Linked DNA regions of Homo sapiens. The protein of the gene in region 2 interacts with the protein of the main gene of each other region in a pairwise test. Each region holds a gene or a part of one and is shown on either strand. Other genes may lie near its edges.

Region 1 (3,747 bases), on a different chromosome or scaffold from region 2:
TGTAATGTATTTCAATGTTAAGTCTCCACCCCAAAGTGAACATGGGTCATATACAACACACATGTTTATTCAGTATACTTGCATTAGGACCCCCTTCATGAGTATCTATAGCTCTTCCTGTAACCTGTTGAATATGGTATTTTTTGTTTTTGTTTTTTCTTTTTTGAGACAGAGTCTCGCTCTGTCACCCAGGCTGGAGTGCAGTGGCGCGATCTCGGCTCACTGCAACCTCCGCCTCCCAGGTTCAAGCGATTCTTCTGCCTCAGCTTCCCGAGTAGCTGGGATTATAGGCACATGCCATCATGCCTGGCAGATTTTTTGTATTTTTAGTAGAGACGGGGTTTCACCATGTTAGCCAGGATGGTCTCAATCTCCTGACCTTGTGATCCGCCCACCTCGGCCTCCCAAAGTTTGGGATTACAGGTGTGAGCCACCGTGCCCGGCCGAATATGTATGTTTAGCCAAGCCATTCGACATAAAGCTCCTGCCTCTTTTTAAGGGTCTGTCTCTGGTTTTGACCAGAAGCCCACCTCCCAGCCTGCAGGTTGTAACCCTTTATAAGAAATAAAGTCAGCCTGGCACGGTGGCTCATGACTGTAATCCCAGCACTTTGGGAGGCTGAGGTAGGAGGATCACTTGAGCTCAGGAGTTTAAGATCAGCCTGGGCAACATAATGAGACCCCCGTCTCCACAAAAAATAAAAAAAAATTAGCTGGGTGTGGTGTGAGAGCCTGTGGTCATGGCATCTGGCATGATTTTTATAAAGATAGTTTTATTTTAAGTATAAGAGTAGTTTTTGGGTAAGGTGTGGTGGCTCACCCCTGTAATCCTAGCACTTTGGGAGGCTGAGGTGGGTGGATTGCTTGAGGCCAGGAGTTTGATATCAGCCTGGCCAACATGGTAAAAAATGCAATGATCCTAGCCCTTGCCTCTTCCTGTACTTAAGATACTGTCTGACAGGATTAATGATTATGCTTCTGTGACCTATAAACAGATGTACTCTTGCACCCAAACCTTGATGAGATTTATGCTCTAATGTAACTTCTGAGCACATTTGATGTAATTTCTGAGCACATGGAGAGCCGCCACCACCAGTGTATAAACTGTCGGAAACACTGCTTTGGAGCAGTCTAGCAGAAACTCCCTGAAAGGCTCTCCCGGGTTGCAATTCTTGGTAAGACTTCTGAATAGAACTAACTTTAAATATTTAAAAGCTTGTTTTTTTTTTTCTTTAGTTGACATAACAAAGCATACCTTAGAAGTCTTTTTTTTTTTTTTTTTTTTTTTTTGAGACGGAGTTTCGCTCTTGTTGCCCAGGCTGGAAATGGCGCGATCTCGGCTCACCGCAACCTCCGCCTCCCGGGTTCAAGTGATTCTCCTGCCTCAGCCTCTGGAGTAGCTAGGATTACAGGCATGCGCCACCACGCCCGTCTACTTTTGTATTTTTAGTAGAGACGGGGTTTCTCCATGTCGGTCAGGCTGGTCTCAAATTCCCGACCTCAGGTGATCCGCCCACCTCGGCCTTCCAAAGTGCTGGGATTACAGGCATGAGCCACTGCACCCAGCCAGAATTCTTTTTCCTCTTACAGAAAAGGAAAGGTTTCACCATGTTGGCCAGGCTGGTCTTGGACTCCTCGCCTCAAGTGATCCACCTGCCTCGGCCTCCCAAAGTGTTGGGATTACAGGAGTGAGCCACCGCTCCCGGCCTGTACTTAGTTCTTTTAAAGAGAAAACTGGCAGGGCGCAAAACTGGCCAACATGGAGAAACCTTGTCTCTTCTAAAGAAACAAAAATTACCGGGCATAATCCCAGCTACTCGGGAGGCTGAGGCAGGAGAATCGCTTGAAGCCGGGAGGCGGAGGTTGCAGTGAGCCGAGATCGCGCCATTGCACTCCAGCCTGGGCGACAGAGCGAGACCCTGTCTCAGAAAATAAAAAATAAATAAAGAGAAAAAAATACTGACTTTCAGCACCAACTTGTGGTCCCAGGTAAGTTTCCACGCTGGTACTTTAGCCCTGGGCTCGAACCTGCGGACACGCTGTGGCTGCAACTCCCCGCCCGCCAGACCTCAGTACGCAGCGCGGCTGGTGAGAAACATAATGCACTCTGACTTCCACGCGTGGAATGGGGAGATGGACTGCACGGCGGGCGGACCTGCTCGGGCTGATGGACGGCAGGTGGACTGATGTGCGCAGGGACTGGCGGCAGCGCGGTCAGAGCCAGTCAGCCAAAGCCAGGCCAGCACAATAGACTGTCCCGGTTCCCGCCAGGAGGCGGCCGAGCACCAACTGTACGGTACTGCGCCTGCGCCGCGACCGCCAACGCGCCCAGTCTACGCTTGCGCGGCGCAACAGGGCCGACTGCAGCTGGAAGATGGCGGCGTCCGTGGTCTGTCGGGCCGCTACCGCCGGGGCACAAGTGCTATTGCGCGCCCGCCGCTCGGTGAGGTGGTGGCGAGAGCGCGGGGCTTCGGGACAGGGCTTCGGGAAGCGGACAGGTGTGGGCTGTTAGCAGTGGCAGGTCGAGGTGGGGAGGACGCGGGGTCAGGGCCGTGGGAAGGTCACGGCGGAGGGCGGGGAAAGGTATCTCGCCGCTTGCCTAGGGGCGGGGTTCGGGGGTCCTCCTGAGGACCTGGGAGGTGGGGAGCGATCCCCTGACCGAGTCCTCACTCGCGGCTGTTCCCTTCCACAGCCGGCCCTGCTGCGGACGCCAGCCTTGCGGAGTACGGCAACCTTCGCTCAGGCGCTCCAGTTCGTGCCGGAGACGCAGGTTAGCCTGCTGGACAACGGCCTGCGTGTGGCCTCCGAGCAGTCCTCTCAGCCCACTTGCACGGTGAGTTGGGGACGCTTTTGGGGAGAGGGCCTCCAGGTTGGGCCTGCCGTCTTTTCCCTGGTTGGGGTGTGACCTTGGGCTCGAGTCTTCCCGTTTGTGGTTTGGGTTCGGACCCAGGACCACTCACCCCGAGAATGGCCCCATTCCCTACCCTAGCCACGCCTTGGCTTCACGGGACAATCTTCACTATAAGCCAACATTATTTAGCATATAATGCCCGTTAAGTAGGCGGCCAAATTCTTTTCCAGCCTTTTGTTAAGGAGCCCATATAAGGGAAGTGATCATGTCTCCTCTTATAATGCGGAAAATGGGATTCAGACACCTTAGGTGACTTGCAGGGGTCCAGGTCTGTCAGCCTCACTGCCCAAGGTCATAATCTCCAGGCTAGACCAGAAATACATTTTAGGAAGCAAATGCATTTTAACAGTACAATGAAATGTGTGATTTTCCAAAAAATACAAATTCTCTAAATTGACACAAGAAATCTTGAGTCACAGATAGATATATGAATAGGTGAGAAGATTCCCAAGAAATAATTATCTCCTCCTCCTTTCAGCCCCCAGCCCCAGGGCCAGATGTTTTTATTGACACATCCTTTTAGTTTTCCAGAAACAATGTCCTGCGATTTAAATTGTTACTAAGCATAGGAAAAGGTGGCCTGCAACTTCCTTGTTATATGTCACTTGTTATAGTAAAGAATGCTATATTACATGAACTCTAAAATGTGCTAGATTGTAAGGAGCTGTCTGTGCTCCAGTGCCAGAGAAAGAATCTCAAGAATCTTGCCAATTTTAATCAAAGGATACTATAGATTGTAAAATGCCTCTTGCATTCCAAGATGTTAGATGTGAAATACATGTTCATCTAAGATTGTGTGATATATGGTATATGCATTGACATCTCTTAGGAAAGCAA
Region 2 (3,747 bases):
GCCACCACGACTTGCCTTGTATGTAAGCTTCTTAAACTCAGTAGGAGCCCAAACAACACAAGCACTTACTGCTGTTATGAGGCAATTTACTGAGCTGGTGTCCCCTGGAGGTGTCTGTCCACTGCTCATCTTATCTATTCTCTGGACACCTAACTGAATTGCTGAGTGGCCCCATCTGGGCCTCAGCTCCACCAGGGTAAGGTGGGCACCCCTCAGGCTCTAGCTAGAACAAACTGCATGTGTGGAAATCAGTATCAGGCTTCTGGGAAACACTGGCCTACCCGGACCCAGTGACCAATTCCAGGAAACAAGGAAACACTAAGAAAAGCCCACCTGGTCAGGTGCGGTGGCTCACGCCTGTAATCCTAGCAGTTTGGGAGGCTGAGGCAGGTGGATCACCTGAGGTCAGGAGTTCGAGACCAGCCTGGCCAACATGGCGAAACCCTGTCTCTACTAAAAATACAAAAATTAGCTGGGCATGGTGGCACACGCCTGTAATCCCAGCTACTCAGGAGGGTGAGGCAGGAGAATCGCTTGAACCTGGGAAGCAGAGGATGCACTGAACCGAGATCGCGCCACTGCACTCCAGCCTGGGCGACAGAGCAAGACTCTTGTCTCAAAAAATAAAAAATAAAAAAATAGGCCAGGCGTGGTGTACTTTGCGAGGCCAAGGCAGTTGGATCACCTGAGGTCAAGAGTTTGAGACCAACCTGGCCAACATGGGAAAACCCTGTCTCTACTAAAAATACAAAAATTAGCCGGGTATGGTGGCGCACGCCTGTAATCCCAGCTACTAGGGAGGGTGAGGCAGGAGAATTGCTTGAACCTGGGAGGCAGAGGTTGTAGTGAGCCGGGCTTGTGCTACTACATGCCAGCCTGGGCAACAGAGCAAGATTCCGTCTCAAAAAACAAACAAACAGAAAAAGAAAAGCTCAGCTTTCAGGCCAGCCTTCCTCATCATTCAGATCCCCTGCCCCGGCCCCGTGTACCAGGAAACCTGAGCACCACCCACCCCACCCACCCCACCCACCCCTACTGTGGGCTCTGCCATAGAGCAGCCTCTCTGAGGCCTGGCCCAGGAGCGCTGCCTGCGAGGTCCCTACTGTGCTTCCCTCTCAGGAGGGCTCACCTGGAGAGGGGCTCTCCGCCCGGGGAAGGCCTCCTTCTGCCACTTCCCTGTCTTTGGGTGAGTCCTTGCTGTCTGGGCCCCTGAGCTGGGTGTGGGAGAAGAGCTGCAAGACGAAGCCGGCGGGGAAGCTGCCGTCAGTGAAGTGTCGGACCTCGGCTGGTGCTGCGAAAGTCTCCGTGGGCGAGTCTGGCGATGGGGGCTCTGGAAGGGAGGACGGGATGGAACTGTGAGTGAAAAAGCCTCAGGAGCTGCAGGCGCCCTGCGCCCAGGCCCTGCTCCATCCTCACTGATGCGGATTTCCTCAGAGCACTGCGGCCAGAGCCCACGCCTCCCCCGGGCCTCCCCTTCACCTGGGTCAGGGTCCAGGTTTTTGGTCATAGGTCTGCCTCTTTTCTTTCTGACTGGCTCTTCCCCTGGGGGTTCCTTCCATCTCTGACCACGGGGCTTCTTATTTCCTGGCTCTGTGGCAGGGACAGCTGCAAAAAGAAAAGACCTCATACCCTTTTAAAGAGGCCATCCCCGAACCCTGCCACCCCAGGGCTCCTGAAGATACCTGCCCAGAACACAGGGCCTGTATTTCACCCTGTCCCCAAACCCCCACCTCCACCGGGGCTCACTGGCTTCTCTGTTGACTAACCAGGAAGCTCGAGGGGGCGGAGTCCCCTGGGCCGGCTCCTTTTAGGGAGGGATGGGTTATCCTCAGAGTCAAGGAGAACGACGATTTCGGCTGGCATTCTGGCAGCGTCTGGGTTGGCGTCTGGGTCTGGGTGGGCATCCTGGCCCGAGTCTGCAGGGAGCAAGAGCACAATGAGCTTCTAGTGCCCCAACAAGTCCGACTTCTCCCTTCGCCAGCCCCAGGACCAACTACCTGAGTTGGGTGGGGACGGCTGCTCAGCTCTCACGTCTTGCAAGAGGGCCACCCCTTCACTCCAGGCCTCCAGGATATTGCTCTTCTCAGAAGGGCTCAGGTCCAAGGTGTGAGGGTGCTGCTCCAAGATGTGCGAGCGAGCTGTGTCGGCCGAGGGTGCCCGGATCTCAGCGCCACACACCATGCACAGTGCCCGCCCGCTGCCTCCTGGGCTGCTGCCCACCAGGAACTCCTGCTCCCAAGACACCTGCTGCTTCGGCTCCTCACAGCCATCACTGCCTGCCTCTAGCGGGCTGGGTCTAGGCGGTGGGGTCTTCTCCTGTTGGGTCACTGCGAGGGGAGAGGGGGAGGGTGTTATCACTAAAGGTGCCCACAACCAACAACACTTAGCACGTCTCCAGACTCAGTGGTTTGAGTGGGATGGGGGAGGAGAGCATTTCTGGCCAAAGTGTTCTTCTTCCTTCCCCTGGAGCCCATGAGGCACACGCCACACTCAACACAGCCGATGTGCCCGGGATCCCACGACTCTCGCGTCTATACTTCCTCTTGATCTAGTCTTGGACCTTAGGACTAACTACACATACTTTCCCAACAGGCTGCATTCTTGCAGGTCTCCAGCCTTTGCACATCTGTCCAGACCACCCTAATTGGGCTGGGCAACATCATCCCTGCGAAGCTTTCCAGAACCCCAATCCCTGACAATAGATTTCATCCAAATCTGACTTCTACACTTTCTTGAGGATGAGGAAGGTAAATTCTTTTAATTTTTAAATTTTATTTATTTATTTTGAGACAGAGTCTCACTTTGTCACCCAGGCTGGAATGCAATGGCGTAATCTCAGCTCATTGCAGCCTTGACCTCCTGGGTTCAAGCGATCCTCCTGCTTCAGCCTCCCAAGCACCTGGGACTACAGGTGAGCGCCACCATGCCTGGCTAATAATTTTTTTTTTAAAAGATGGGGGTCTCATTTTGTCACCCAGGCTGGAGTACAGTGGTGTTATCATAGCTTACTGCTGCCTTCAACTCCTGGACTCAAGGGACCCTCCAGCCTTAGCCACCTGAGTAGCTAGGGCTACAGATAGATGCATGCTATCACACCCAGCTAATTAACAAACAAAAAAATAATTTTTAAGAGATGGGGTCTTGCTATGTTGCCCAGGCTGGTTGTGAACTCCCGGGCTCAAGCAATCCTCCTGCTTCAGCCTCCCAAAGTGCTGGGATTATAGGCATGAGCCACCATGCCCGTTCTAAAGGCCACCCCATCCCCTCAGAACTCGCCTCCCTTCTCAGTGCTCACAGAGCATTTACAGCCATGGTCCCACTCCTATTGCTGCCTGATACCTGCTCTTTGTGTACACAGACAGACCATAAGCTTTCACAGGGCATCACCCTTTCCAGTTCAGCAAAGAAGGCAGCCTTAGACCTGCATCAGCCTGGAAGCTCAGTGCTTTTACGAAGTGCCCATGATCCTTCACGGCTGCATCTCCCTCCTACCTTCCAGAGAGGATGGGACAAAATTAAAACACAGGAGGCCCTAATACCTGGGGGCTGCATGGAAGAGGTGGTATGAGAAATAGGAGCCTCGGCTTGCATGGATACAAGAGGTGGTGTCTGAAAGAGATACGAGATATGTCTTGTACCTATCTCTCATGCGACCATGGGCAGAAATGACCTCTCAGTTGCAATCAGCTTTCTTCCCTACTAGTCTTCCAAAACAGCTCTCATCCAAGTCAGCAGTGCTAAACTCTG

The links. The genes of interacting proteins can lie anywhere in the genome.
Region 1: the proteins of SPINDOC (region 2) and UQCRC1 interact in binary tests that used the Homo sapiens proteins (3 or more experiments, as listed by UniProt).

The regions. Positions count from the first base shown.
Region 1 is NC_000003.12:48,608,247-48,611,993, reverse strand, and holds the start of UQCRC1 (cytochrome b-c1 complex subunit 1, mitochondrial precursor), read left to right. Parts: upstream 1-2,347; 5' UTR 2,348-2,373; coding exon 2,374-2,442; intron 2,443-2,691; coding exon 2,692-2,832; intron 2,833-3,747. UniProt on the Homo sapiens protein: Component of the ubiquinol-cytochrome c oxidoreductase, a multisubunit transmembrane complex that is part of the mitochondrial electron transport chain which drives oxidative phosphorylation.
Region 2 is NC_000011.10:63,816,385-63,820,131, reverse strand, and holds part of SPINDOC (spindlin interactor and repressor of chromatin-binding protein), read right to left. Parts: intron 2,328-3,747; coding exon 1,998-2,327; intron 1,917-1,997; coding exon 1,767-1,916; intron 1,606-1,766; coding exon 1,480-1,605; intron 1,331-1,479; coding exon 1,130-1,330; intron 1-1,129. UniProt on the Homo sapiens protein: Chromatin protein that stabilizes SPIN1 and enhances its association with histone H3 trimethylated at both 'Lys-4' and 'Lys-9' (H3K4me3K9me3).